Linked DNA regions of Homo sapiens. The protein of the gene in region 1 purifies or fractionates together with the protein of each later gene. This does not show direct contact. Each region holds a gene or a part of one and is shown on either strand. Other genes may lie near its edges. The genes, in order: TSNAXIP1, CCDC186 and PIBF1.

Region 1 (8,799 bases):
TATTTCCAGCATCTTTGTGATGATCTGGAGGTATTTGCTGCTCATGCTGGCCGCAAGACTGTGAAGCCAGAGGACCTGGAGCTGCTGATGCGGCGGTGAGAAGGCGGAAGGTGTGGGGGTGCTGGCTGGGGGAGTTTTGGTGCTGATTCTGCCTGTCCCTTCTCTTCCTCCACTGCAGGCAGGGCCTGGTCACTGACCAAGTCTCACTGCACGTGCTAGTGGAGCGGCACCTGCCCCTGGAGTACCGGCAGCTGCTCATCCCCTGTGCATACAGTGGCAACTCTGTCTTCCCTGCCCAGTAGTGGCCAGGCTTCAACACTTTCCCTGTCCCCACCTGGGGACTCTTGCCCCCACATATTTCTCCAGGTCTCCTCCCCACCCCCCCAGCATCAATAAAGTGTCATAAACAGAATATTCTGCATTTTGGTGCATGTCCTGGGGCCAGCCAGGCAGGGACTGATTCCCCCCCACAACTCCCCAGCACAGTCTGGAGAATGGCATGGATTCAGACAAACACTTTTATATTAAAAGCTAGGGGTTAGCAGGACTGGAGTACGCAGGCTGCCCACAAGTTCCTAGCTTGCAGGCTCTGGCTCTCGAGGTCCCACACGCCTGATGTCAATCACCTGAAGCCGCTCCAGGGCAGTCTGGAGGATTTCCACCACGGCTTCTTCCTTCTCGTCACCCTCCTCTGGCATTTCCGACTCAGGGAGCTGGAAGGCCTGGCTCATGTAGGTGTTCACTGTCTGCTTGTCCAGGCTGGGGTCGATGGTCATCAGGCCCCCTCGCAGCTTGGGCAGAGTCACTTCCTCATGGCTGCCCCACAGGAAAGAGAGTGACAGGCCCTGACCCCTCCTCTCCGTGCCCCAGACTCCCAGGTGCCCTCCTCTGTGCTGGGCTGAGCAGTGGATGGTGCATGGTGCACAGGGAGACCCAGGGGCTTCAGGGGCCCAGCCTGTGGGACTCGCCTATGGATGAGGGTCACTCACAGTTCTATGCCAAGCTCCTGCTTTAGCTGCTGTAAGTACTCGTCCTTCTCATCCATGTATTGTTCCCAGAGTTTTTGCACAAAGGGCTCACTCTGGCCCTCCTCATCCTGGGAGGGGCCACAAGTCAGGGGGAGGGCACATTGGGTAGGGTCCAGCCAAGGCTAGGGCAGGGGCCAGGCCAGTCCCCGGACCCCACACACCCACCTCCATAAACAGTGAGCGGTAGTTGAGCAAGTCTGCATTGCTGCTGCTGGGATGCCAGCCCCCTGCCTCCATCAGCTCCTGGATTTGCTCTTCTGTCTTGAGAGGGAAGGTACTCTTGAGGACAGTGCTGTAGGGGAGACATGAGGGCCAACAGGGACCTGCTGAGGCCTGCTTGTGCCTCTCCCTAGTGCTCAAAAGGGAGTGAGTGCCGAGGCTGTGGCCCTTCCCACCAGGTGCCCCTTTTCCCTACAGATGCAGGAATAGTTGGGTAGGAGTTGGGGGTAGCCTGGACTGGCCTCTCACTTGAACTGCTCCATGGTTAGTAGCCCCTCGTTCTGACTGTCAGCATTTGTCATCTCCTTCAGCAGCTGGGCTACTGTCTCCTTCTGGGTGACATACACATTCTCACTCCGCTATAAGGAGAGAAGCATTATTCACCTGCTGTTCCTGGGAGTGGTGGGGGCAAAGCTGGTCTATGCTAGGGACAAAGACCCCTCTCAGTCTCCCCAAGGGGAATAGGCCCCAGCTCACCTTTCCCATCAAGACTGCATAGAACTGACTCATAACCTCGTTGGAGTGGAAGATCTTGATATTTTCAAAAATAGTATAAGCCCAGGCCATGGCATCACTGGGCCCAAAGCGATGCTCCAGGAAATTGAAGAAGAAATCTGGGAACGTCTCTTTCTGCGGGATCGAGGAAATGCTCAGTCAGAGTCTTACGGTTGGTTGGCCCTCATCCCTGTCACCTCTGGACCTGCAGAGGACTCTGGATCTGAAGACCATGCTGGGCCAGAGTGGCTGGTGAGATCTGACCTGCTCCTCAGCAAGACGTTCCTTCCAGGCATCCTTGAGGAGGTTGACCACGTCCTTCTTGCTTGGCTTCTTGTTCTCCACGAGGCCATCAAACCGAAGAAAAGCAGGGATGGCTTCCCCATAGCCCTAGGAGGGAGGATATCAGCTCATCTCTGGACCCATCTGTGGCCCCACCCCCAATCAGGGAAGATCCCCAGTTGGTTCCCCAAAAGCTTGTCTGAGCAGCAGGGCATGGCTGTTCTGACTCTGGCCCAAGCCCCACTCCTGGGGCCTCCCCTACCAGACCAGGGAAGAAGTCTTTCTCCCGCAGCAGCCCCGAACCAATCTCTTCCAGGAGCACGTCCACCAGCTGGTCGCTGTTCTTGCCCTCAGCCAGCATCTGCCAGCGCTCTGGGCCCCCAGCCACCACATCTGCATGTGGGGAGAGGGAGCTGGAGTCTGGGCCCACATGTAAGCAGGACCTGGGGCCCTGCCGGCTGCCCTCACCTTTGCACTTGGTCCAGTCAGGCCGCGGCGTGGAAGTGCGCTGGATCTCCTGCAGCTCAGAGAAGAATTGGTCCCGTTCCTTCAGCGTGCTCATGTGCAGCTGCATGAGGATCTCATGCTCCTTGCGAACCTCCTCGTAGCTGGCTCTCAGGGTGTCCAGCTGTGGGCAAGGACATTGGCCCTGGCCCCCCACCTGTGAGACCCCGTCCTACCCTCCTGGCCCTGCCTGCCTGCCAGCACCTGCTCCTGAAGATCCTTGTTGGTCTTCTCCTGCATTTCAAAGTCCCTCCTGGGGACCACATCTCCAAAGTTGGCCTTCATGTTGTTGAGTTCCATCTGCGTGCGGGTCAGGTCTTGCCGGGTCATCTTAAGAGCCAGGGTTAACTTCACAGGGTCCTCCCCCCAGATGCCTGCCAGGGGAAGGGGCCCACCAGCCCGTGTCACCGTGGCTTTCTCAGGGGTTGCCTGAAGCCCTCTGCCCTTCCTGTTTGGGGTTCCCTGGTTCTTGCCCACAGCACTACCAGCCTAGGGTTTCAGGCTAAAGTCTAGAAGCCCAGGAAACTGAGTACCAGGCCTGTCCAGCCCACTGGGAGCCTAGGCTGCCTCAGCTACCAACTGTGTTCCTACAATTCTCAGTTCAACTCAGAAGATACACAGCCCTGCGGGAGGCAGGGACATCTCCCCTCTGAATGGTTATGGAATGAGCAGGTCTTAGGAATGCTGAATGAATGGGGCTTAGGGGTGAGACCAGAGTCTTCCAGCGTCTCAGAGAAGAGAGAAACCCGATTCCCAATTCAGGCTTACCTGGCGACTGGGCTAATGACATGTCCTCCCGCTGGTACCGCAGCTCATTCAGGTCTGCGATGAGGATCTTACAGGCATCTCGCTCACTGAGGTAGTGCAGGTACTCCTCAGCCAAGTTCTTCCTCAGTTTGGTCACCTGGCAAGAAGGTGGCTGTGTGGTCAGGGGCTGCCCCTGGACCCCTGTATGCAGCTGGTCACCCCAGGGAGTGGGCTGGGTTCTGGGGGGCCCCATCAGGGACTGTGAACAGGAAAGGTGAAAGAAGAAGGAGATTGGCCATTTCTGAGAATTCGGCAAGGTGCCAATGTTTCCCCCTGTGGGGAAAGTACTGAGCCTAGCAGCAGGGCAGAGGGTGGAGTTAGCAAGGCTCTGGGGGAAGGTGGTGGCTCAGTGTGTCACTCTCCGTAGAAAGGCAGAGCAGGGTAGGGGGTCACCCTTGTCGTGGAGTTGGCAGGAATTCGGGGACTTGGTCATCATCACACCACTTCCATTCACCTCGCTCTGCAATGAAATCTTCTCCTCATTCTTTTTGTCGATGAGTTTTAGCAAGTTCATCTTCTCTTTCTTGAGCAGGGAGATTTCATATTTCTCCTCAGCTCTCATGGCCAGGATCCTCTCATTGCAGTCCTCATTCACAGTGACAAGCTTGGCCTTCAGGGGCTCCAGAGCCCGAATCTTCTCCCTTTGGTGGGCTAAGCAGAGACAGGTGGGAGAGCTGCTTTGGGGCCATGGAGAACAAACAGCCAGAAGACACCCTAAGGTCATGGGTGAGTGGCTATGTCGCTTGCAAACCCCAAGAATCTCTGCATGCCTTGTTCAAAGCCATGGTCCCTGTTTCAGGCCTTCCTGCACTTGATTTTAAACAAAGGGCAGAGTTCAGATGAAGACCGGGGTCTCTCCTATGTCCTTTCCCCTACAGCCTTAAGTCCTGCAGCTGCACCATGCCCTGCACCTCCTGAGCCTGGCAGGGGAGCCTGCTGACTCCCAGAGGTGCTGACTCTCTCCTGGGGTTCACTCCATTTTCAACAGGGACTGCCCCCCTGTGCTTCTCAATGACAGGTGTTGTCAGGTGCTCTGGGGTGCCCTATCATGGAACAGTCTGTGCAGAATGGCTGAGGGGCCTTGGTGACCTCAAGGCCCAGTTGGTAGCTGCCCCAGCCCTGCTGTGGAGCACCAGAAGGTCGAATAGGATCTTCTCCACCCCTTCCAGGCTGGGACAAGGAGGGGAGCTGCATTCTTTTTTTTTTTTTTTTTTTGCGATGGAGTCTTGTTCTTTTGCCCAGGCTGGAGTGCGGTGGTGTGATCTCAACTCACTGCAACCTCCACCTCCTAGGTTCAAGCAATTCTCCTGCCTCAGTCTCCCAAGTAGCTGGGATTACAGGTGTGTGCCACCATGCGCAGCTAATTTTTTTGTGTTTTTACTAGAGACAGGGTTTCACCATGTTGGCCAGGCTGGTCTCAAACTCCTGACCTCAAGTGATCTACCGCCTCGGCCTCCTAAAGTGCTGGGATTACAGGCGTGAGCCACTACGCCTGGCAGGAGGTGCATTCTTACCCAGCATCCCCTCATACGCATTCTTGATGGAGGATAGTAATGGCTTGTACGTTTTGAAGTCCTCTATGAAGAACTCAAAGATCTCTCTGTAAGGCTGGCAAGAAAAGGGAACCCATCATCTCCTAGCCCACAGCTGCCAACCTTAGTGGGGAACTGTTTTTCTTTTTCTTTTTTCCTGAGACGGAGTGTCGCTCCATCACCCAGGCTGGAGTGCTGTGGTGCAATCTCAGCTCACTGCAACCTCTGCCTCCCAGGTTCAAGTGATTCTCCTGCCTCAGCCTCCTGAGTAGCTGGGATTACAGGCACGCGCCACCACACCTGGCTAATTTTTGTATTTTTAGTAGAGATGAGGTTTCACCATGTTGGCCTGGATGGTCTCGATCTCCTGACCTCGTGATCCACCCACCTCGGCCTCCCAGAGTGCTGGGATTACAGGTGTGAGCCACTGTGCCTGGCACTGTTTTTTTCTTTACTGGGCTTAGCAGTATTCCAGCATGAGGCTGCCAGGTCACTTATATTCAAGTAAATGCCCTAGATACCACCCGGGTACCTCACAGTGCCACGGAGCCTGGGGGGCAGCTCTCTGGAGGCCTGTCCTGATGCTGTCTCTGAGGCCTAGTGGACTGCCATGACCATAGACAGACATCCACTCTGTGCCTGAGCCCCTCTCTGGCTCTCCAGGCAGCCAGCCTCTTGCCTTCTAGACACTGCATCATTGGCCTCTCACTTGTAACCTCTCCCCATCTTAGAGCCTGGTAGATTCAGGAGATTGAAGGTTGTACCCTTGCATCCTGACATGCAAGTAGGGGTGTGGTCTTCTGTCCCATTTGGACACATGGGAGGTTTCTGGAGGCAGCATTGCTCACTGAAATGAGCACAGTCTCCAGAGTCAGCCCTGAGTTTGAAGCCCAGCCCCACTACGCCATAGTGGTATGCTTTCTTCCTTATCTGTTCAGGAGATCGATGTAAGGCCCCAGCCCAGGGCCTTGCACTTGCACATAGCCAGTGCTCAGTAAATGCTTTAGTCAATGACTAAGTCAAAAGGCAGGGATTCTCTGTCATCATCCTTGTTTAAGCAGATTTGGTGATTCTCTCCCTACTATACACTGGTATCTGGGTTGGATCTGATCTCTCTCTCTCTCTCTCTCTCTCTTCCTCCCTCCCTCCTTATGCATCTGTGCTGGTTCCTTAAGCTTGGGGTTGTTGCCACTGGACTGGTAAACACGGTGTGACCCCTGCTTGCCCAACTGCCAGCATTCAGGCTACGTTCACTGATGTCCAGTGGCCCAACCTGGGTACTGGGGATCACAGAGCTGCAGGGACTGGGCACAGCATCCAGGCCACCTGACTCAGGTGAGGAAACTCCAGCCTCAGGAGACTTTTGGATCCACATTGCAGCCTTGCCTGCTCACTGGCGTTTTCTTTTTTTTTTTTTTTTTTTGAGATGGAGTCTCACTCTGTTGCCCAGGCTGGAGTGCAGTGGCGTGAACTTGGCTCACTGCAAGCTCCGCCTCCCAGGTTCATGCCATTCTCCTGCCTCAGCCTCCCGAGCAGCTGGGACTACAGGTGCCTGCCACCACACCTGGCTAATTTTTTTGTATTTTTAGTAGAGACGGGGTTTCACCATGTTAGCCAGGATGGTCTCGATCTCCTGACCTGGTGATCCGCCTGCCTCGGCCTCCCAAACTGCTGGGATTACAGGTGTGAGCCACCGTGCCTGGCCTTCTTTTTTCTGTTGACAGAGTCTCACTCTGTTGCCCAGGCTGTAGTGCAGTGGCATGATCTCGGCTCACTGCAACCTCTGCCGCCTGGGTTCAAGCAATTCTCCTGCCTCAGCCTCCTGAGTAGCTGGGACTACAGGTGTGTACCACCACTGCAGGTTTTGTATTTTTAGTAGAGGCAGGGTTTCACCATGTTGACCAGGCTGGTCTTGAACTCCTGACCTCAAGCGATCCTCCTGCCTCAGCCTCCCGAAGTGCTGGGATTACAGGCATGAGCCACTGTGCCCGGCCTCACTGGCATTTTCATGGGATGTTTCATGCTTCTGTTCAGGGAAGGAGACCCAGGAGAGCTGGGAGAGGTGGGTCTCCCCTGAAGGTCTGAGGTGCTCAGTCCTTGTAGGTGAGGCTTTTTTTTGTTTTTGAGACGGAGTCTCACTCTTGTCGCCCAGGTTGGAGTGCAGTGGTGTGATCTTGTCTCACTGCAACCGCTGCCTCCCGGGTTCAGGGTTCAAGCGATTCTCCTGCCTCAGCCTCCTGAGTAGCTGGGACTACAGGTGCCCACTACCATGCCTGGCTAATTTTTGTACTTTTAGTAGAGACGGGGTTTCGCCATGTTGGCCAGGCTGGTCTTGAACTCCTGACCTCAGGTGGTCCACCCGCCTTGGCCTCCCAAAGTGCTGAGATTACAGGCGTGAGCCACTGTGCCCGGCCGGTAGGTGAAGCTTCTTCCCACCCTTCCCCCGCCCTCCCCAAGTTTCTTCTGTGGCTCTGACCTGCAGCCTTAGTTCCTGGGTGGAATCTGTGCCCAGGTCCAGCAGGAGGAGCTCCTTGCGTAGGTAGTTTTCCAGTTCCTCCAAGTACTGGGGCTTGGCAGTGCGAAAGGGGTGCTGCTGGCAGCTCCTGCAGGGGACAGTGGCTGATATGTGGCCAGCACCCCCACGGGGCCCTTGTGCCCTCAGTCTGGGGCAACACACGCCCCTGCCCTGTCTCCTGGCCCAAAGCCTGGCCCATGCCAGCTCACCCACCATGGGACTGACCCTGGCTTACCCTACTCGCTTCCGGTAGTCATCTGAACAGGGTTTTCGATTTTGCAAAATGGTCTGGCCACTGGTGTATGTGGGCCATGGGGACAGGTGCCCACCCATGGAGAACTGACCAGTCTGCAGGGAGGTACAGGTGGGGTTGCCATGGCAACATTGCTCCCCTTCCTAATGTTTCTCTCCATCTCTCCTCCCCCAGTCCTGACTTTTTTTTTTTGAGACAGTCTTGCTCTGTTGCCCAGGCTGGAGTGTGGTGGCACGATCTTGGCTCACTGCAACCTTCGCCTCCCAGGTTCAAGCTGTTCTCTGCCTCAGCCTCCCGAATAGTTGAGATTACAAGCACCCACCACCACACCCATCTAATTTTTGTATTTTTAGTAGAGACGTGGTTTCACCATCTTGGCCAGGCTGGTCTTGAACTCTTAACCTCGTGATCCACCCACTTTGGCCTCCCAAAGTGCTGGGATTACAGGCGTGAACCACTGTGCCTGGCCAGCCCTGATGTGTTTTACAAACATCTCTCAACATGGTTCATAATTAAGACTGTGGGTTCTTGAGTTAGAGAAGACTCGGGTTAAGTCTCAAATGTCCCTTATTAGCTATGTCACAACTTCTCTGAGCCTTAGTTCTCACGTCTGTAAAATAGGGATGATGGTAGTCTTTGTCACAGTGTATTGATGTGAGGATGCAGTGAGAAAGCATAGTCGGGCGCGGTGGCTCACGCCTGTAATTCCCAGCACTTTCGGAGGCTGAGGTGGGTGGATCACGAGGTCAGGAGATCGAGACTATCCTGGCTAACACGGTGAAACCCCGTCTCTACTAAAAATACAAAAAAAAATTAGGCCGGGCATGGTGGCTCACGCCTGTAATCCCAGCACTTTGCAAGGCCAAGGCGGATGGATCACGAGGTCAGGAGATCGAGACCATCCTGGTTAACACAGTGAAACCCCGTCTCTACTAAAAATACAAAAAATTAGCCGGGCGTGGTGTCGGACACCTGTAGTCCCAGCTACTCTGGAGGCTGAGGCAGGAGAATGGCATGAACCCAGGAGGCGGAGTTTGCAGTGAGCCAAGATTGCGCCACTGCACTCCAGCCTGGCGACAGAGCGAGACTCAGTCTCAAAAAAAAAAAAAAAAAAAAAATTTAGCCAGGTGTGGTGGCATGTGCTTATAGTCCCAGCTACTCAGG
Region 2 (11,119 bases), on another chromosome or scaffold:
ATAGTACACATATACTAATTTTCCTTATTACAAAATTATCTAGAGCAACACTGAGCAATAGAAGTACAAGCCACATGTGGAATTTAAACTTTCTAGTAGTCACACTTTAAAAAGTAAAAAGAAGCTGGGCGCAGTGGCTCACGCCTGTAATCCCAGCACTTTGAGAGGCCAAGATGGGCAGATCACCTGAGGTCAGGAGTTCAAGACTGGCCTGGCTAACATGGTGAAACCCTGTCTCTACCAAAAATATAAAAACTAGCCAGGCTTGGTGGCGGGCCCCTGTAATCCCAGCTTCTCAGGAGGCTGAGGCAGAAGAATCGCTTGAACCTGGGAGGTAGTGGTTGCTATGAGCCGAGATCGCGCCATTGCACCCCAGCCTGGGCAACAAGAGCGAAACCCCATCTCAAAGATAAAATAAAATAAAATAAAATAAAAAATAAAAATTACAAACAAGTGAGTTTATTAAACCCAATATATCCAAATATTATCATTCCAATATTATCAATCCACATGAAAAAAATGAGCTGTTTTATTTTTATACTAACTCTTCTAAGTTACATGTGTATTTTACACTTACAGCACCTCTCAATTTAGACTAGCTACCTTTGAAGTGCTCAATAGCTATATGCAGCTGGTGGATGCCACATTAGATAGTGCAGATCTAGAAATAAAATAAAGAAGGAAAAGCTTTTCTCTTTAAAAACAACAACAACAACAAAAAAAGCCCACTAATAAGCTCATGAAAGGAAGGGCTCTGGTTCCATTGTACCTGTTCGGTCTGAAGTTTCTGGTCATTGAGTGACCTGACTACCGAAATATGGATTTAGCCTGTTAAGACTCCCTCACACTTTACCATTCTAACTCTGGTTTATATGTGGGGACCCTAGAGCACATAAAAATCAGGATTAAATACATACAATTTTACAAATACAGTCACCTTCCAATCATGCATCAAGTGAAAAATTGTTTTACCAATTGTTTACTGTTATTTTCATTATATAACTTTCTTTGAAAGATGAGACAAAATACTTTTAAGGCTAGAATGCTTCTAATCCTGTTCACAGAAGAAAAAGCACCTCAAAAATAAAGAGCAACTCAGCTTTCCTATTAGTCTGAATACTCACTTTGTTGATTCATGCATCAGAGGAGTTCATTTAAAAACTAGAAAGAGGCCAGGGGCAGTGGTTCATGCCTGTAATCCCAGAACTGGGAGGCCAGGCCAAGGCAAGTGGATCACCTGAGGTCAGGAGTTCAAGACCAGCCTAGCCAACACGGTGAAACCCTGTCTCTAATAAAAATACAAAAATTGGCTGGGTGTGGTTGGTGGCCGCCTATAATCCCAGGTACTCCCGAGGCTGAGGCAGAAGAATCACTTGAACCCAGGAGGCAAAGATTGCAGTGAGCTGAGATTGTGCCACTGAATTCCACCCTGGGTGACAAGAGCAAAACTCTGTCTCAAAGAAAAAACAAAAAATAAATTAAAAAAAAGAAGGAAAAGGACAGGCTAGGAAAGCCAGTAAGCCAGATACAATCTAAAGTATGACAGCCAGCCTTCACAATATAGTTTTTAAAAATACTGAGAATGGAACCATACCAAAATATAAACTTAAAAACATCCTAATGCCAGACATAAACTTTTATATTTCCATTGCTTCCTCCCTGTTGGCAACAACAGTCTAGTTGACTGTCAACTCAAATCGTCTTTTTGCTTATTTTGAACATAACAGAGTATGTTCTACTACATGCAGTACAGGAGTCACATGCATAAGAATAAACTTACATAAAAGGAAATACATCAGGCTATGAGTCCTACTTTGTAAAGGAGAATGGTTTAAATGCCATGCAATTCTCTGCATTTAAAATATGATTTACCTTATAGAACTCCAACCTACATGCAAGTTTTCAGAATTTTTTTTTTTTTTTTTTTTTTTGAGACAAGGTCTCACTCTCTCACCCAGGCTGGAGTACAGTGGCACGATCTCAGCTCACTGCTGCCTCAATCTCCCCGGCTCCAGTGATCCACCCACCTCAGCCTCCTTAGTAGCTGAGATTACAGGCGCATGCTACCATATGCAGCTAATTTTCTATTTTTTTTTTTTTTTGTAGAGACAGGGTTTCACCATGTTGCCCAGGCTGGTCTCAAACTCCTGGGCTCAAGTAATCCGCCCACCTTGGCCTCCCAAAGTGCTACGATTACAGGCATGAGCTGCCACAATCGGCTGCCAGGAATGTATTTATTTTATTAATTGAAGTATAGTCTTCGAAGATTTTTGTCTTTTTTACCTGTTTAATTGTGTTCATATGCTGCTTCTCAGTTTCTGTTCTTTTCTTTAGTTCTTCTCTTAAATTGTCTTTTTCTGAACAAATGTCTACGAAGAGCTCCTGATGCTTCTTATTTTCTTTAATTAACCTAAATATAAAAAGGGCAGTGTATGTAAAACATAATTTAAAATGGAGATAAAATAATATGTGGAATATAATTTCTTTACAGATCAGGGTACAGATATCTATAATTATTCATTATGTTAATAAATTAACATTCCTAAATAATCATTTTATAGTGAAACATAATACTTTGCAAAAGATTCTCTGGCCCATTAGGCTATTAACTTTTCCCTAGAAATATGAATATTTCAAATCAAAATAGAATCATATGAATGAAAAGCACACCCTTCCAGATTTATACCTTCAGGTATCTCAATTATGCACCAATCCTGTCAGCACTGGCACTCTTCAAATAAGTGGTTCTCAGCCACGGGCAATTTTGCCCTTCCAGGCATTTGTCTGAAGACATTTTTGGTTGTCCTAACAAGGGTAGGGGCTGCTACTGGCATCTAGTGGATGGAGGCCAGGGATGCTGCTAAACATCCTACAATGCACAAGACAACTCCAACAACAACAAAGAATCTGGCCCCAAGTGGCGATACTGCTAAAGTTGAAAAGTCTTGCTTCAGATTTTAAAAATATTTTAATGATAGTCTAATAGTTATAATGTACAGTCAATGTAAAACAGCAAAATAAAATCTAAGCAGAAATATCATCTTGAATTCCCCTAGAAAAACAGAAATAAAGTCTCAAAAACTGCCTGCAAAGTGCTTAGAAATGTAAGATGCCTAAGAAAGCTAACAGCAAGTACTCTAGGACTAATTAGCAATAGCTGTAACCTAACATTTATTGCACACTTGCTATTGGCTAAATTTAGCTTTTTTAATTTAAAAAAGTGTATTATTTCATTTAGTATTCAAAATAAGTCTATGAAATTATTATCATTACCATCACTTCTGTTTTACGAATTAAAAAAAAAAAAAACTAGTTAGGCATGATGGCTCATGCCAGGAGTCCCAGGAAAAGCACTTGATCCCAGGAGTTCCAGGCTGCAGTGAGCTCCACTGCACTCCTGCCTGGGCAACAGAATAAGACCTTTGTCTCTAAAAATAAAATAAAAATATTAACAGCAAAACAAAACTGAAGCCTAAGACTTGTTCCAGGTCACACAGCTAGTAAGCAGTTGAACTTTCAATTTTGTTTTGGATCCAGGTATACTTCCAAAGCCCCAGGCCTTTCCACCTTCTACTTTGAAGATCACTCATTAACTCAACCAGTACTTACTCAGCATCTATTTTATGTGGGAAATATGTCAGCAAATAGTCCCTGCCCTCGTGGAACTTACATTCTAGGGGATAAAATAAAAATGGACCCTAGATATATAATAAAATGTCAGCTGGTGATTAAATCCTATTAAGAAAAATAAAGGAGAGCGAAAAGCCAGAGAGTGACTTGAGCTGCTATTTTAGATAAGTAGTCTAGATAGGCCTCTCTGAGAAGGTGACAGCTGAGCCTAGGAATCAGTGAGGAAACAATCATACAAATGTTTGGAAAAAAGGCAAATATATGCATGTTTATTCAAGCCTTTTATGACACAGTGGTTTAACTTAGATCATTTATGTGAGGCATACTCAATTGCTACAGAAAACTACTTGAGACACAAGAGTCCTGCCTATAGTTCACAAGTGAACAACAAAGGGAGGGGGAAGTGAAAAGCAGTAAACACTCAATTTGTTACTTATGTGCCAAATGCATATTCTATATACAGACAACTGTTCTTAATTAAGAATTTTGGTCCCAGCACTTTGGGAGGTGGAGGCGGGTGGATCATGAGGTCAAGAGACCGAGACCACCCTGGCAAACATGGTGAAACCCCGTCTCTACTAAAAATACAAAAATTAGCTGGGTGTGGTAGGGCGTGCCTGTAGTCCCAGCTACTCAGGAGGCTGAGGCAGGAAAATCGCTTGAACCTGGGAAGCGGAGGTGGCAGTGAGCCAAGATCCGCCACTGCACTCTAGCTCAGTGACAGAGCGAGACTCCGTCTCAAAAAAAAAAAAAAAAAAAAAAAAGAATTTTAGGCTAGGCACAGTGGTGCATGCCTGTAATCCTGGCACTTTGGGAGGCCAGTGTGGGTGGATAGCCTGAGTTCTGGAGTTCCAGACTAGCCTGGGCAACATCGTGAAACCCCATCTCTAAAACAAAAAAACCACAAAAGTATTAGCTGAGCCTAGTGGTGCGCACCTGTTGTCCAAGCTACTTGGGATGCTGAGGTGGGAGGACAACTTGAGCACAGGAGGTTGACGCTGCAGTGAGCTGAGATCACACCCACTACACTCCAGCTTGGGCAAGAGAGCAAGACCCTATCTCAAAAAAATAAAATAAAGAATTTTTGGGCCAGGCGCAGTGGCTCACGCCTGTAATCCCAGAACTTTGGGAGGCTGAGGCAGGTAGATCACTTGAGGTCAGGAGTTCAAGACCAGCCTGGCCAACATGGCAAAACCCTGTCTCTACTAAAAATACAAAAATTAGCCGGGTGTAGTGGTAGGCACCTGTAGTCCCAGCTACTTGGGAGCCTGAAGTAGGAGAATTGCTTGAATCCAGGAGGCAGAGGTTGCAGTGAGCTGAGGTCGCGCCACTGCACTCCAGCCTGTGTGACACAGCACAACTCCACCTCAAAAAAAAAAAAAAAATTTGGTTGGAACCTTAGACAGTAATATTGATGTGTTCAAAAATCAAAGAACAGAAATAAAGAGAAGAATGGTGCTTGCCAGGGCACAGGGGGTGAGGGAAAAGGGGAGATATTGGCCAAAGCCTACAGACTTTTCAGTTATAAAATGAGTAAGTTCTGGGGATCTAATATACTCCATGGTGATAACAGTTAATAATATCATATTGTACACTTGAAATTTGTTTAGACAGTAGATCTTAAATGTTCTCACCACACACACACAAAGGTAACTGTGATGTGACCGATGTGGTAACTAACTTGATTGTGGTAATCATTTCACGATGTATATCAAATCATCACATTGTACCTCTTTAAATATATACAATTTTATCAGTTATATTTCAATAAAGCTGGGGGAAAAATGAGGGAATGTATAAACAAAGATTTGGAAATAGATGCATTCATTAAAATTTCAAAGAAAGTAAAAGGAAGTTTTCTTCATAGAAAATTAGATGAAGAAAAAAGTTAAGAAAAAAATTTAGTTGTTTTAGAGTTAACCTGACTCACAAAGTATTTTATTTGGAATTAAAAACATCATGTGTATAACCAAAAATTAACCTTGATTTAAAATAACATCTGACATTTGTGTAATGTCCTAATGTCCACAAACAGTTCCATCAGGTAAGTATTGTCACTCTAAGGTGAAAAATCTTTCACTCAAAGAGGTTGACTTGGCCAAGACAACAGAGCTGGCAAATGCCAATGGGTATCTTCCAAATACCAGACATCAGAATTATGATTATTCCACTCACCCGTGCTGTCACTGTTCTGACAGGATGAAGCAAAAAAGAGAAACCAATTTTCTACCCTATTCCTCATATTTTTAGGTAAATTTAACACCTTGTAACTGGTTCATTTCTAATAACCGTATTTGAAAAAGCTCTAAAGCTCCACTCACAAAGCTCAGATTTTAACTTTGCATTTGTTAGCATGTGGCCTTGAGCAAGTTACTTTTTCTCTCTCTGCGCTTCAGGTAACTCATCTGTACAATGGGGATAACAGCACATGTCACAGAGAGTTCTTGTGAAGAATCCATGAACTAATAAATGTAATATACCAGGCACCTAATTATCAGCATATACATGTTTACTGCTATTATTATTAAATGTATAACATCTTATAATTTATAAGGGAGGTATGAAAATGGTAAGAGTCTAGATCTCAGTAAAGTGGGAAGAGGCATCAGAGATAATCTCAAGAGGAAGGTCTAAAAGAATAGGTACAGGCTACAGGAAAATGAGAAAGTTACCCTATAAAATGCAAGAATAGCAGCAGCACTGATGGTTCAAGTACAAAAGCATACAGTTTATTCACATAATATAGTATTACAGTAAGGATATGAATAGCAACAGCAGGCATTTGTTTGGGGGTAATATCAAGAAGGGCCTTGGAGTCTTGAAGAGATACTTGCAAACCCAAGTTCACAGTAGCATTATTAACAACAGCCAAAAAGCAGAAGGAACCCAGATGTCCATTAATGGATGAATAAACAAAATGTGGTATATACATACAATGCAATATTATTGAGCCTTAAAAAGAAATGAAATTCTGACATGTTACAACATGGATAAATGAGGACATTAGGCTAAATGAAATAAGCCAGTCATGAAATGAAAAGTATATGATTTCACCTACATGAGGTATCATGAGTAGTCAAACTCAGCAACAGAAAGTAGAATGGTGGTTGCCAGGGACTGAGGGCAAGTGGAAATAGTGTTGTTTAACGAATACAGTGTTTCAGATTTGCAAAGTGAAAAAGTTCTGCAGATTGGTTGTCCAACAGTGTGAATATATAATAACACTACTGAAACGTACACATAAAAATGGTTAAGATGGTAAATTTTAAACTATCATGAAAACAGAACTTCACATATCCAAAACTGTATTATTATTTACTGAACGATAATCAATTATTCTGTTCTCTAAATTTTAATGTTTTAAACCAATGAATTTAGAATGCAGATTTTAAGAAAAAGTTGTGGAATTTTATGACTTGTTATTTCCTTTTGAGTTTCTCTTAGTTTTGACAATATACTTCTACATTCTTTCAAAAGTGAAAAATTTTGAGTTGTCTATAAAAATTTCTAGCACGTTAATACATTTACACTATTTAACATATTGAACTCAGATATCTGAAAAACTCGACATTTGCTCACACATTCAGCAACTATACATTTATTGTTCAACTACTATGTGCATGATTCTAATGTGCAAGTAAAAATGAACAAAATGGTATTTTCCTTTAAAGAATTTTATCTCGAATCCCTGTGCCTGTGAGGGAAAAAAAATAACCTAAAGGTATAAAAAACTTACTTTTTTATGATATGTTCCTGCTGCAAATATTTATCTTGCACACACTTTTCAAACAGAACTAATGCATGTTCTCCCTTATTCATTCCATTTGGTACTCGATGTTCTGCAAACTCCGTAGATAAGAGCTCAGATTCTATTTCTTCCAACAAATCCTCTGATGCTGAAACGCTCTTTATTTTTGAAATAAATTTCTTGGTGCAGTCTGTATCATAGGGGCTTTCTGAATAAGTCTTTTCATTAGCTGATTCTGGAAATGTAGATGACCTTAATTCCACCAATATTTGTGTTACTTTCTGTTCTGTTTCATTTGTTTTTGAAATATGTTTAGCAAAATTTCCACTAGGAAAATTAGCTATTTGTTCAGAATTTTCTGAGCCTGTGTCTGTTTTGGCACAAGAATCCTCACCTCCACCATGATCTGGAATATAATTTTCCTGGGCTTCAATTCGATTATTATGCTCATTAGGTTGACATAAAGTTTTATCAGTGTTTAATGACAATAGTTTGGACTCATTTTCTAATTTGCTGCTTTCATTGCCAGAAAACAAGTTGCATGAGTCTTCCTTTAATTCAGGTGTTTTCCCAACATTTTTATCAGAGGAAGTAGAGGCTATGTGGTCTGTCTCTGACATGCTGACTGGCACCAATTCACTTTGTAATTCTTCAAATCTGCTCCTGATCTTCGTTTTACATCTAAGAAATTGAAACATCAAAATTAAAAACCACTTTAAACCAAAACCCCATACAAACTTGCACACACTCTGTGATGTGGAATAACTAACACCACAAATTTTATCACTAACAATTCCTTTAAAAGCCTGTCCTTGAGAAAAAAGAAAAAGGACTAGGACAGCTAACCCAAGCTGGCTAGCTACAAGCAGTAGGGCCACTGCAAAGTCTGTCTTTCCTCCTTCATTTCAGTCAAACAACTTCATTAATTAATTTCAGTTGTAGTCTGGCATTCTCCAATCATCCCCATAAGATGTTAGGTAAGGAGTAACGCTAGCAACTAGACGAGTGCCAAAGAATGCTTAGAATTCCTTCAGCTCTGTAAAGAAAAAAAGACTACCTCATAAATCTGTAAGAAAATACTGGAGAAATAATACACCAATAAAAGCACTAGAAATCACAAACCAAGATAACAAAACAACGCACATTAAAGAAAATAAAAATTTACTAAGAAGGAAACCTAAATAACAAGACACAACTATCTATAGCCCAGAGATCTAGATTTGAGCCATAATGAAGTCAGGGTGTAAAGAATCCCTGGTAGAAATTAGTTTTTCATCCAGGCAGGAATCCAGGAAGTACCATGGTGATTTTCAAACATTCTCATCAGGAAAAAAACAATGTCCAGTACAAATAAAATGGAGCCCATATGCACTGCCTAGGTCAATAAAAGCAACTTTATTAATTTGACCAAGTTAGAGTGTGTGTGTGTGTGTGTGTGTGTGTGTGTGTGTGTGTATATATATATATTTTTTTTTTTTTTTTTTTTTTTGGGATAGAGTCTCACTGTCGTTGCCCGGGCTGGAGTGCAATGGTGAGATCTCGGCTCACTGCTACCTCTGCCTCCCAGGTTCCAGCAATTCTCCTGCCTCAGCCTCCCGAGTAGCTGAGACTACAGGTGCCCATCACTACACCTGGCTAATTTTTTGTATTTTTAGGAAGAGATAGGGTTTCACCAGGTTGGCCAGGCTGGTCTCAAACTCCTGACCTCAGGTGATCCACCTGCCTTGGCCTCCCAAAGTGCTGGAATTACAGGGGTGAGCCACCGCACCCGGCATAGGATAGATTTTTATATTGTTTATGGAGGTTACTATTCTAGCCATTTTATGACAATTAGTCATCTTCAAATATTATCCCACAACACATAATTATAAAATATTTCCACAATCTTGATAAAAAAAATTGTTGACTTCTTTTGTCAGGTATCAACAAAGCATGTACAAGGTAATGAGTTACTGAAACCATGTGAGGTTAGATTAAAAAGAGGACAGATCATAGTTTTGACAGAAATAACAGAGCAATAATTCCAGATAAGAGATATACTAATGGAAAATAGCTCTAGTTTATACATGAGATATAAACTAATGGAAAACTAATGGAGAGATATACTAAATTTTTAAATAACAAAACATGCATGGTTACATCAGGCTGGGATAAAGGTGGTTATCAGAGGATGATGAAAAGAGAGAGAGAAGACTGGTCAGGTAGATTCCATAGAAGGCTAAGCAGGAGTGAATTTTGTTAAGAACAAATCATAGTAAATCACAGTGACTTGTAGACTTAATTACAGTGCAGAGTTTCTAGCACATAGTGGGTTCTCAAATATTTGTTTAATTAAAGCCTGTAAGCACAGAAATGGTAACACTAGTATTTGAGAAACATTATTCTAGGAATGTCGAAAATGGGAGGAATAAGTGTAAGAAAGGAAAAGTAGACCAGCTTGTTTGCTAAATATGCTAATTTCTAGACTGCCCTCTGGGGCATCAACTAAGACAGCCATTGGCCTAAATACTCTACCTCTCTGTATAAATATGTTTCCAAACAACCAAATTATCATTATTTTGCTGCAGATATTTTATAACCAAGCCAAAGCACACACTAGTATTAAAGGCTTGGTTTAGACAATACAAATAAACGGAGTAAATAAAAGACCTCGTAAGTACTCTGTATTCCAAAATCTAGGACAAAATAAAATAATTCTCAAACAGAGGCACTGCCACCTACATTACCTCACCCAAAGTAACTCACTTTAAGATATAACTTGTGGGCTGGGCGTGGTGGCTCACGCCTGTAATCCCAGTACTTTGGGAGGCCAAGGAGGGCAGATCACAAGGTCAGGAGTTCAAGACCAACCTGGCCAAGACGACGAAACCCTGTCTCTACTAAAAATACAAAATTAGCTGGGCGTGGTGGCAGCCGCCTGAAATCCCAGCTACTCGGGGAGCTGAGGCAGAGAACTGCTTGAACCCGGAAGGCAGAGGTTGCAGTGAGCCAAGATTGCGCCACTGCACTCCAGCCTGGGCGACGGAGCGAGACTCTGTCTCAAAAAAAAATTAGCCGGGCATTATGGTGGGTGCCTGTAATCCCAGCTACTCGGGAGGCTGAGACAGGAGAATCGCTTGAACCCAGGAGGCGGAGGTTGTAGTGGGCCAAGATCGTGCCATTGCACTCCAGCCTGGGCAACAGAGCGAGACACTTTGTCTCAAAAAAAAAAAAAGTAAGGAGAGGGAGCACATCTTTGAGTCAAATTATACCTCTTCATGCCAAGCAGCTGGGAACAGCTTCAACTTTTCTTCAGAGAAAACAATGAGTTTGTGACTTCATTTTTTTTTTAATGGCTAGAACCTGTCTTAATTTCTGGAATAAGTTTTTTGTAGTAACCAAAAGTGGCGGCAAAGTTACATCGGACCAAGGGATTCTTAAAGGACTGCACTGCAGAGGAAAGTACAGAGGTTAGGAGTGTTTTACACTGTATGACTGGAGACCCAGTAAGGAAAAAATAAAACCATTTCACGTTTATACCCAGATTTAAGATTCCTCAGTAAACCAGTTGTACTACTTTTCCATTCTTATCTCTCAACACATTCCTGAAATCCTGGCACTCCATCATACTTTACTAGCCCAACCAGTCTAACTCAAAGATTCCCCCAACTTGCGTATTAACATTTCAATGGCTTTGTTCTCAACTAGAATGTTCTTCCCTTAGGTCTATCTGAAGTCTATGTTTAAAGGACCAATTCTAAT
Region 3 (11,016 bases), on another chromosome or scaffold:
CCCCATGAACCTTCTTTGCTTTCTTCTAGAGCTGGACCTCATTGAAACACCAAGAAAACAAACAGCTCTAACACCAGGAGTCCAATATACTTCTGAGTCCTCACAATCGACCAGAGGGACAAAATTCAGTGGGGTGTACTAGCTTTAGAATCACTGCTCACAAGAAACAGTGTAGCACTTTGTTCATCTGGAGTGCTTCACACATAAAGACAAAAATAAAGACATAACTAAACATATAATAACACATACAAATAAAGGTGTTATTTTAAAACATATAAAGAAATATGTCACATACCAATTTATACATAAACAAATAAGTGAAAAAATATATATCATGTGTGTAGTGCTGTTTGCCTGTCTAAGGTGTTATTCCCAGGGCATGTAAGAAGTAAACATATATATACACACATACACACATTAACATACATATACATATTCTTTAATAAAAATATTTTTTAAATATTCTTTCATCAACTCCAGACTCACACTTTCTCACATTTTAACATCTCTAAAATTGGAATGCATTTTACAATCTAAGGCACTTAACAATTCAACTGGAAGTGTTTAACCTTAGCAATGTATGTAATGATGCATCTTACAACAGAGGTGCTTTAGGTTCAATAAATTATGGAAGGCTAACTCTACAATAGGTATTTCTTCATATATTTGAGAGCAAACATCTTATTCCTAAAGAGTCTTCAAGCAGAGAATCCTGAGTGCTCGTATGATAGAGAAAAAAACTCTACTAATATACAGCAGGGCAGCTATTTTGGAGATAACCTGGCAGTACACTTAGTTAAATGAAGGAGACATTTATATATGTCAAAGACATGCTCACAGAGGTCCAGAAGAGAAATGTCTAATGCTGCATGTGTTGCAAGGAGCTGGAGGCAATCTGGATGCCTAGCAATGTAGGAGTAGAAAGACTGGTAGACGCACACAAAGAATTACATAAGAGTTGGAAGCAAAGGACTAGATGTATACAAAGTAATAGATAACTTCAAAAACAGTGCTGAGTAGGAAAAAAGAGATGAGAACTAAAACAAAGCATATAATTTACATTTCTGTAAAGTTAAAAGATACACATTCTCAAGAATACATGTAAACAAAACATTAAAATGTTTGCATTAAGAAATGGAATGAGCTATAGGAATGAAAAGAATAAATACATTAGAAAAACAGCAGCCTTTCAGGGATCAATGATGATTATGTGTCAAACTCAGGAACACGACTATTGCAATCTTCTACATTTTCAGTCAAACTAGAAAACCACAACAAAAACTACACTAAGCACCATGGAAGTAGAAAAATAATAATATTGTGCTGAGTAAGTATAGCTACAAATAAAATAATATGTAAATAATAAGTTTATTATTAGTATACACCAAGCATCTATGAGCTTACATACATTGATTAATCCTCCCGATAATTCCACGGAATAAATACTATTATCATTTTATAGGAAATCACGGAATAAAAACATTAAGGAATTTAGTAAGGCTGGAATTCAAAACCCAAACTGTGTGCATCTAGAACTGTAATTTGGATTTGTTACACTAGAGAGCCTGTCATGAATCAACCAACATTTCTATAATATAAAGCTTACACCTAAAAAGAAGCAAAGCCATTGACAACCAAGGACAATGCAAGTTGAAAACAAATAATACAAGAGGTGGCTGAACAAAATGTAAGTCTGGATATGGTATACAGGTGGCACTTAAAAAAATACTTGTTGACTGAGTGGGTGAATTAATGAATGGGAGATAACCTCAGGTTTCTTCAATGAGTTGCACTAAGGTCTGGAGAGGTGAAGGTAGATGGAGTTCATGTGAAATGCAAAAAGAGTAAGGGAATAGGGATGGGAAACCACTGGATGCATGGATAAACTACCAAGTGACCTAGACTAGGTAGGTGACTGTATAGGGTACCTAAAAGAAAGTGTTTGGAGCTTCACTTGTGTAGAGTATAGGCTTTAGACTTCCTAGGTTTGAATCCTATCTGGCTCTATCACTTTCATCTGAATGGCCTTGGGTATGCTATTAACCACCTAGTGGCTTTGTTTAATCAGAGCAAAATGGGGTTCAGTCATTCATTTAAGAAATAGCTGGGCACTTAATTTGTGTCAGGCACCGTTCTAAGTGCTGGAAATACAACCATGAATACAAAAACATCCCCGTCCTCATGGACCTCATAGTCTATTCACAGACAAATAACAAACAAATTCAGTCCGATGGCCATAAAAGGCACAGAAAATGAAAGGGATGAAACAGATAAGGATGCTATGTTAGTTGAAAACAACAACGGCTAATACGTCTTGTGTGCTTATTTTTTTTTCTCCCCTCAAAATTTGTATATTGAAACCTAATCACCAATGTGAGTAGCAGGAAGTTGGGGCCTTTGGGGTGATTAGGTTATAAGGGTAGAACCCTCACTGTTGGGATTGGTGCCCTTATAAAAGTGATCCCAGAGAGCTAGCTGGGCATGGTGGGGAGCACTTGTAATCCCAGCTACGTGGGAGACTGAGGCAGGAGAATTGCTTGAACCCAAGAGGTGGAGGTTGCAGTGAGCCAAGATTGTGCCACTGAACTCCAGCCTGGGTGACAGAGCAAGACTGTCTCCAACAACAACAACAAAAAACAACAAAATACCTCATATGTTAGATTTTTTAAATTGAGCCTACAAAAGTAATTTATCCATATCTACGTTTAAATCACTCCATATTTCAATACTTAAATTATTATTATTATTTTTTTGAGATAGGGTCTCACTCTGTTACCCAGGCTGGAGTGCAGTGGTACGATCTCAGCTCACTGCAATGTCTGCCCCCGGATTCAAGTGATTCTCCCGCCTCAGCCTCGGAAGTAGCTGGGCCTGCAGGCGCAGCACCACTACGCGGGGCTATTTTATTTTTTTAGTAGCAAGGGTGGTCTCACCATGTTGCTCAGGGTAGTCTCGAACTCCTGAGCTTGGAGCAATCCACTGGCCTCAGCATCCAAAGTGCTGGAATTACAGGTGTGAGCCACCGCACTTGGCCTCCAATTATTATTATTATTATTATTACTAGTTTTTGAGAGTCTTGCTGTGTTGCCCAGGCTGGAGTGCAGTGGCACGATTGTGGCTCACTGCAAACTCTGCCTCCTGGGTTCAAGCAATTCTCCTGCCTCAGCCTCCCGAGCAGCTGGGATTACAGGCACCCACCATCATGGCTGGCTAATTTTTTTTTTTTTTTTTTTTTAAGTAGAGCTGGGGTTTCACAATGTTGGCCAGGTTGGTCTCAAACTCCTGACCTCAGGTGATCCCAACTGACAGATAAAACTGTGTGTATATGTCATGTACAACATAATGTTTTGAAGTATACGTACATTGTGAAATGGTTAACTCTAGCTAATTAAAAAATGTTTTACCTCACATAGTTATTTTAGTAATGAGAACACTTAACATCTGCTGTGTTTTTCAAAAACACAATGTTTTCCAAGATTACAATGTCATTAACTATAGCCACCATGCTGTCCAATAGATCTCTTGAATGTATTCCTCCTATTCAACTGTAATTATGTATCCTTTGACCAACATCTCCCCAACCCTCCTTCACCCCTAACCATGCCAGCCCTTGGTAACCACCATTCTATTCTCTACTTCTATGAACACCAAAATTATTTAAAGGCTGTACTTGTCAAGAAATATAAATGTATCATTTCAAGTTCAGATAATGTGTGTATTTAATTCTTATTTACCTGCCGTTTGAAGACAATAAAGCATATAGAACACAAAATTTAAACCTGATCTTACCTTTGTAAGATAATCCACTTTCAAATTGTCGATCATCATAGTTTTCTGGGATAGCTCAATTTTTAGTAACTGAATATTATGAAGTAGTTCTTTTCGTTCAATTAGCTGCCTGGTGATTCTGACTTTGCCCTCTCGCTCTTCTGATGAGGAAATATCATCCGTAGGAACTGTTGTTTCTAAACTAATATCTTCAGATTCCAGAGAACTAGAGATGTTCACTTTTTTTGACTCCTTTGAAATTTTTCGAGACATTTTTATTATTATGGATCAGTTTTCTTCTCTAATTTGATTTTAATATTCTGTAGGTTAAAAAACATTAATTCAAATGTACTATAAAATTAACTACAGAAATCATGGACTGTATTAAAGAGAGACTAAGGATTCCTTAAATAAATATTAGGCAATTTAGTGCATCCCAAATCTAGAACAGATTATTGCAGTTAAGTTAATGCTCAAATCAAACACATTAATTCCTAATATGAAGTCAGCCTTCGAGAAACTTAAAAAAACAGTTCCTGCGGGGAGGAATCTTACTTGGAGGAAACAAAGAAATGTACAAGATGAAGAAAAAAGCCCATTATAATCAAGAATGGCACCACTAAAACCAACACATGCTCAAAGATAACAGAAATCACGTCTGAGTTGGTCAGGGAAACGTTACACAGAGGTAGCACTTAGAATCTTTAAAGATTTGGACAGGCATGGTAAAAAGGAGAAATCATGCAGTTATTAATGATACGTAAGTGGAAGTAAAAAAACAAAGCCAAGTCTTGGAATAGTTACTCCTTTCACCGCCCCCCCAACACAAACACAAACACACACACACACACACACACACACACACACGCCCTTAACGATCAAGACTGGAAGGCCTTAAATGTCAAAATAGGGTTGGATTTTATTCTACAGGCAATGAGGCATCATTGAAGATGTTTTAAATAGGGAAAACGGGGACAAAAACATTTTTTATAGATAGCAGAATGAAAACAACAGGATATAAGAAAAATTCAAGAAATTCTAAATAGAACTTACTTCTAACTCTCTCATAAGAATGTTAGCAACTACCTTGTTTTAATACCTCATGATATAACAAATTATGCTATTAAATATTTCAGTTTTTCTAAACTGAATGATAAGGAAAGGTGTGTGGAGGGGAAACAGCGAGAACTATACTAAGATCGGCCTCCCTCCTTCTTTTTGAAGGGAAATAGGTAAGAAAAAGTGAATTCAAAGACAAATTCTCTCCTCGATTACAAAGGGCCCGAGACGGGGACTGCCTATACACTCGGCGTGAAAATTAAGCCCCAAACTTGGCAGCTCGGGGGATTCCTTGCCCCACGCGGGAAAGAAAGCGATGATAGTCGCAAGTTACCTCGAAAGTGTCAATTACTCCACACTGAAGCCTTGACCAGCAGCCAGTGCAGACACCGAGGGACCAAAGGCGTCTCCGGTCGGAAGCACAAGGTTGCAGGCCCTCAACAAGGGATTTCAAGGCAGGGGACCGTTAGGACCCGTAACCAAGACAACCATCTCCGCACCCGCAAGGAGGACAGAACCAGCACTCCCACAAGCCGCCGGAAGTCAACTCTCCCGGATGTTCCGAGGAGCGGAAAGCAACACACGTTGTGAGGTGGCGTCCAGAAGGAAGCCCCGCCTAGGCCACGGGCGGAAATGGCTCCTCGCCTTGCTTTGCCGCCCCTCCCCACTCTCGCCCAATCCCCGCGGCCGTCAGAGAGCCAACCAATGTTTATCTCGGCATTTTCCCGCGAGAAGTGTTACTAATATCCGGGAATGGAAAGGGAAGAACCTCCGGGGTTAGGCGTATTCTAGATTGACGCCTTTTGCTGGAAGAGCGCTGCTGGGGTTAGGATTCTGCGCGGCGAGGCAAGATGCTCAAGTCCAAGACGTTCTTAAAAAAGACCCGGGCGGGCGGCGTGATGAAGATCGTGCGCGAGCACTACCTGCGAGACGACATCGGCTGCGGTGCGCCCGGGTGCGCAGCGTGTGGAGGGGCGCACGAGGGGCCGGCCCTGGAGCCGCAGCCCCAGGACCCGGCGAGCAGCGTCTGCCCGCAACCGCACTACTTGCTGCCCGACACTAATGTGTTACTGCACCAGGTGCGTGGGCGGGCGAACCGCGGACAGCGCGGCCCCACGGGGACAAGGGGGTATGACAGGGAAACTGAGGCCCAGGGAGGCGGGTCTTTGGCAGTGTCACATACCTAGCGAAAGGGAAACCCCCTCGGGACCGAAGCTTCCTGTTCCCCAGGCCGAGGTTCTTTTCCTTGTGCTTTAAAAAATTTAGTTCTTGGAGTCGTAGTTCAGACACGTTATTTTTCTAACTCCTGGTGTCTCTTCTGCCTTAGATTGTAAGTGCCTGGAGGCCGGGGACCTGGGCTTCTGTGGCCTCCAGCCTGCGACTCCCAGGCAGCTTGTAAGTGCCTAGGAACAAAAAACTATGTGGGCCAACGTATTCCTTTATTAATACCCTTAATTCTACGAAGTCTTGTGATTGGTCTGTTTAAGTGTGCTTTTTTTAATAGATCTGAAGGGTTTAGTGACTATTGTCTCGTTTTCTATAGCCAAATAGCTTCTTGGCTTAACTTATTCAGTGTTTTTAAAACATAAAGTATTTATGCCCAACATAAAACAGGATTTTATGTTTGACAGAGCTATTTACAAATGAATATAGGAAAAATTAACTTTATCTTTCTTTAAGATTGATGTTCTTGAGGACCCTGCCATCAGGAATGTAATTGTGCTACAAACAGTTCTTCAAGAAGTGAGAAATCGCAGTGCCCCCGTATATAAACGCATCCGAGATGTGACTAATAACCAAGAGAAGCATTTCTATACTTTCACTAATGAGCACCATAGGTAGGAGGAATATTACGTTAAATATCAGAAAACCACAGGATTAGCAAAATTCGGGAGAGGGTTCCTGTGAGTAATTTATGACATTGTCAGAAGATAAGTGATAGATTTCATACCTTATTTAATTCTTACATGGCTGTGCAGAAGATAATGCTAAGTGGATCTCTCTAAGGTCACACAGGCATTGATGGGCTCAAGCCTAAAACCAAGGTCTGCTGACTCCTAGACTACAATAGGTACTTTAATTTCCAAAATGTTTTCATTTTGAATTGGTTTTAGCATGAGTTGGACCATAGAATCTTGGAAGATGAGATTTGCTTAAGTTCCTGGAATACCATATTATGTGAACAACTAACAGAGGGTAATAAAATATATGAGTTTGTGAAGTTTCTATTTTGTTTAAAAATAGAAAGTAGATTTATTCTTAATGGTCTTTTTAAAAGTTTAATACTTTGCAGCTGATTACATTGAGCAAGATTAGGTTAAGGAATAGAATTCTTTTTTTTTTTTTTTTTTTTTTTTTGAGATGGAGTCTCACTCTGTCACCCAGGCTGGAGTGCAGTGGTGTGATCTCTGCTCACTGCAACCTCCACCTCCCAAGTTCAAGCGATTCTTCTGCCTCAGCCTCCTGAGTAGCTGGGATTACAGTCACGCACCACTATGCCAGGCTAATTTTTGTATTTTTAGTAGAGACAGGGTTTCACCATGTTGGTCAGGCTGGTCTCGAATTCCTGACCTCGTGATCCACCTGCCTCAGCCTCTCAAAGTGGTGGGATTACAGGCATGAGCTACCGTGCCTGGCCAGGAATATAATTCTTTGTTGTGCTTTTAGATTCAAGACCTTTGAACTCAGTGTGTGGTCTCAAAAATATGATATTGCCTATTACGTTATATTACATAAATAATCTATGATGAGTATGGTACTTTTATTGGATTAGATCAGGGCTTCTCAATCTTGGCATTATAGATATTTTGAACTGAATAATTTTTTTGTGGTGGAAAGGCTGTTTTATACATTGTAGTATGTTTAACAGTGTTCCTAGCCTATTTGGCAGGATCACCACCCCTTACCCCCCCCACCACCACCACCACCACCACCACTCAGTTGTAATGATACAAAATGCCCTGAGGGGTGAATTCACTCAATTGAGAACCATTGGATTAGAGTGTAGACTTCTGGTAATGAAATTCCATCAGATTATGCACATTTTTAAAAACCTTAATATCTCAACTTTCTTGATTCTTATATCTCAAACTTCAATGTTCTTGTAAAGAATACCAGTAAAGCCCTTGTAGGCTTCTTATTGTTAGTACCTCCTTGAAATCCAGAAATAGCAACATCACTTGTTTTTCAGTGCAGAAAGACCCAAGTTTAAAACCAATTCAAAAATTTATGACTGTGTCTTTCACTGATGAGCTTAAAACATTAGCAGCTGGGCGTGGTGGCTTATGTCTGTAATCCTGGCACTTTGGGAGGTTGAGGTGGGCAGATCACTTGAGGCCAGGAGTTCCAGACCAGCTTAGCCAACCTGGAAAATCCCTGTCTCTTAAAAATACAAAAATTAGCTGGTTATGGTGGTACATGCCTCTAGTCCCAGCTACTTGCGAGGCTGAGTTGGGAGGATCACTTGAACCCGGAGGTAGAGGTTGCAGTAAGCTGAGATCATGCCACTGCACTCCAGCCTGAGCTACAGAGCAAGACTCTGTTTCAAAAAAAAAAAAAAAGCATTAGCAAGTGCATTCAACGATGAGGAATAAAATAATTCTAAAACTATTAATATAAATCAAATTATTAAATTGAATCTATTACCATTAAGTACTGGAAGCTATTGTAGTGAACTTTGCTGTTGTACTTAAACCTGGCTTTGATGAACAGATTTAAAGAAATAGATGAATGTGTTGACATACTTGGGAGTTTAGATAGAAGAAATACGTAATATCTATTAATATACCTGACTTTTCAGTCTCTACATAGCTTCAGCTATTAGTGTTTACCATGGATAATTTATATGCATTATTTATTAATGACTGTAGAATTCTGATTATAAATGATCTAATTATACTATTTGTAGCTTTTAGGAATTGCTATTAACCTACAGTTTGAATGAAATCTGATTATCATACCTGTGAAATTGTATTATAATTTGTCAACAAACTATTATTTAGTGTCTCAACCTAAAGTATAAATTCTGATCTTGAATTTTTCTTTTTAGGAAATAAAATTGTATTAGCCTTTTTCTTGTCCCCTTAATAACATAATTTTCTTCTTTTCCAAGCAAATTGTTTCTTAAAAACTTAATTATAAGAATCTTGATTTCTTCTCTGAGGTGTACATCTGAATACATTCAAGAGAAAAGATATACCATTGACTTTTTCTAGTTTAGTGGTTAAGCATTTATGTGCTAAGAGTTTTCACATATCCTTGTTTCTACTGATTTCCTTTTATTTCGTTTTTTCTTTCCATTTAGAGAAACCTATGTAGAACAAGAACAGGGAGAAAATGCTAATGACAGGAATGATAGAGCGATTCGAGTAGCAGCAAAATGGTACAATGAACATTTGAAAAAAATGTCAGCAGACAACCAGCTGCAAGTTATCTTCATAACAAATGACAGGAGAAACAAAGAGAAAGCCATAGAAGAAGGAATACCAGCTTTCACTTGTAAGTCTAAATGTAGAAGTACTTAGTGCATGTTTGCAAATGCGTGTAAAAATAATCATTAGGCCTATAGTCAGATGTTCACTTTACTATTTAGTATTTTCGTAGTCCTATATAACTTCATGTGATATTTTTGTATTTTTAAATTTCACATAGTTTTTAACCTAAATATGTTGTGCCCAGTGGCTGTTAATTTTCCCCTCACTATTTGCAACTGGTTTAGCAATGAAATCTCATAAATATACTGGAACCCCTGCTTCTGCTTAGGTATGATCACATCAACAGATTTTTGGGTTTTGTTTTTTAAATAAATTGAGGCCAGGTGCTGTAATCCCAGCACTTTGGGAGGTCAGGGCAAGAGGCTTGCTTGAGACCAGGAGTTCAGGACCAGCCTGGGCAACATAGGGAGACTATAGCTCTACAGGAAAAAAAAAAAAAGCCGTGCATGGTAGTATGTAACTATAGTCCCAGCTACTCGGGAGGCTAAGGCAGGAAGGTAGCTTGAGCCCAGGGATTCTAGGCTGTAGTGATGTGTAATTGCGCCGCTGCACTCCAGCCTGAGAGACAGAGTGAGACTCTCAGTGTGTCTCAATGAATGAAAGAATGACGTGTATACTGTCGCAAACAAGACTATCCATTTTTTTCATATCTAAGGAAAAAACACTTATCAAAAACAACATAAACTTATTTTTTCAGGTGAAGAATATGTAAAGAGCCTAACTGCTAACCCCGAACTCATAGATCGTCTTGCTTGTTTGTCTGAAGAAGGGGTATGTTTTTGTTTTGTTTTTGAAAAGTAAAAATATTAAAATAGCCACTTTGGAATATTAGGCATATAGTTACCAAATTTAAAAATTGGAATGTCGGTGGGTAAGCTGGATTTGGAATAGTTGTGTTATAAACAGGAGTGGATGTCATAGGCTTATTGAAATGCCATTCCTAAAGGAGTTAACTTTCTAAAATAGATATATTCCCATTAACCTGAGTAGGGCCTGGTACCTGGTAGCACTGTTTGGTTGAGGAAAAAATGAACGGAGTCCATGGCTGATTTGTGAATAAAGAGTAGCTGCTGACAAATGAAGTGGCAGGCACTGCAGACAGAGGAAAGAAGAGGGAGGGGAGTGTCCAGATAGTAAAGACCTAGAACTTATTCTGTAGGTTAGTAATTTTTCAATTGATTTATAAAGATCTCCCTGAAGGGCTGCTATGAAGAGGAAAGGATTCTGAGATCCCTTCCTTATATGTCAGGCTAAGAAAAAGTAATGGTATATGAATGTGGATTGGTGGAGCAGGAGAGAATGATTGGAAATGGTATTTGTTTGTAAGACCACTCTCATGTCAGTGTGTAACATTAAGCATTTTATCCAGGAAAGATTAGAGGCAGAGAGGTGAGTAAAGGAGTCATTACAATAGCTGATGTGAGAAGGAGTGCTAAGGGAATAATTAAATTCTGAGCATTCATTTTCTTATATATAAATATATAATGTTTAGCAATAATAACTTCATAGTGTTGTTATAAGGATCAAATAAGATGATAACTGTAGCATTAATACAATTTTCATCCTAGTGCCTGGCACATAGGTATGGTAAATATAAATGGTAGCCCTTGTTATAGAAATAGGTTTTAAGTGATAGGACATTATACATAAATCCAGTCTTTACACTTCTGTCATCCCTTCTTACCTTTATGATACT

The links.
Region 2: the proteins of TSNAXIP1 (region 1) and CCDC186 purify together in Homo sapiens (affinity purification with mass spectrometry; 2 studies listed by BioGRID and IntAct, with this or other methods). This does not show direct contact.
Region 3: the proteins of TSNAXIP1 (region 1) and PIBF1 purify together in Homo sapiens (affinity purification with mass spectrometry; 2 studies listed by BioGRID and IntAct, with this or other methods). This does not show direct contact.

What each region holds. Positions count from the first base shown.
Region 1 is NC_000016.10:67,819,770-67,828,568, reverse strand, and holds the end of TSNAXIP1 (translin-associated factor X-interacting protein 1), read right to left. Parts: intron 7,731-8,799; coding exon 7,618-7,730; intron 7,471-7,617; coding exon 7,344-7,470; intron 4,944-7,343; coding exon 4,850-4,943; intron 3,987-4,849; coding exon 3,790-3,986; intron 3,433-3,789; coding exon 3,297-3,432; intron 2,903-3,296; coding exon 2,733-2,902; exon of another isoform or gene 2,674-2,732; coding exon of another isoform or gene 2,653-2,673; coding exon 2,493-2,652; coding exon of another isoform or gene 2,418-2,492; coding exon 2,287-2,417; intron 2,133-2,286; coding exon 2,007-2,132; intron 1,878-2,006; coding exon 1,725-1,877; intron 1,607-1,724; coding exon 1,497-1,606; intron 1,321-1,496; coding exon 1,194-1,320; intron 1,097-1,193; coding exon 990-1,096; intron 817-989; coding exon 576-816; 3' UTR 501-575; downstream 1-500. Other genes in the region: CENPT (centromere protein T), read left to right, coding at 1-95, 179-302. UniProt on the Homo sapiens protein: Possible role in spermatogenesis.
Region 2 is NC_000010.11:114,155,271-114,166,389, forward strand, and holds part of CCDC186 (coiled-coil domain-containing protein 186), read right to left. Parts: intron 8,060-11,119; 5' UTR 7,999-8,059; coding exon 7,367-7,998; coding exon of another isoform or gene 7,363-7,366; exon of another isoform or gene 6,338-7,362; intron 2,411-6,337; coding exon 2,284-2,410; intron 1-2,283.
Region 3 is NC_000013.11:72,776,495-72,787,510, reverse strand, and holds the start of PIBF1 (progesterone-induced-blocking factor 1), read right to left. Parts: upstream 5,379-11,016; 5' UTR 5,162-5,378; intron 4,089-5,161; 5' UTR 4,042-4,088; coding exon 3,790-4,041; intron 1-3,789. Other genes in the region: DIS3 (exosome complex exonuclease RRP44), read left to right, coding at 5,679-5,906, 6,508-6,665, 9,131-9,324, 10,018-10,091.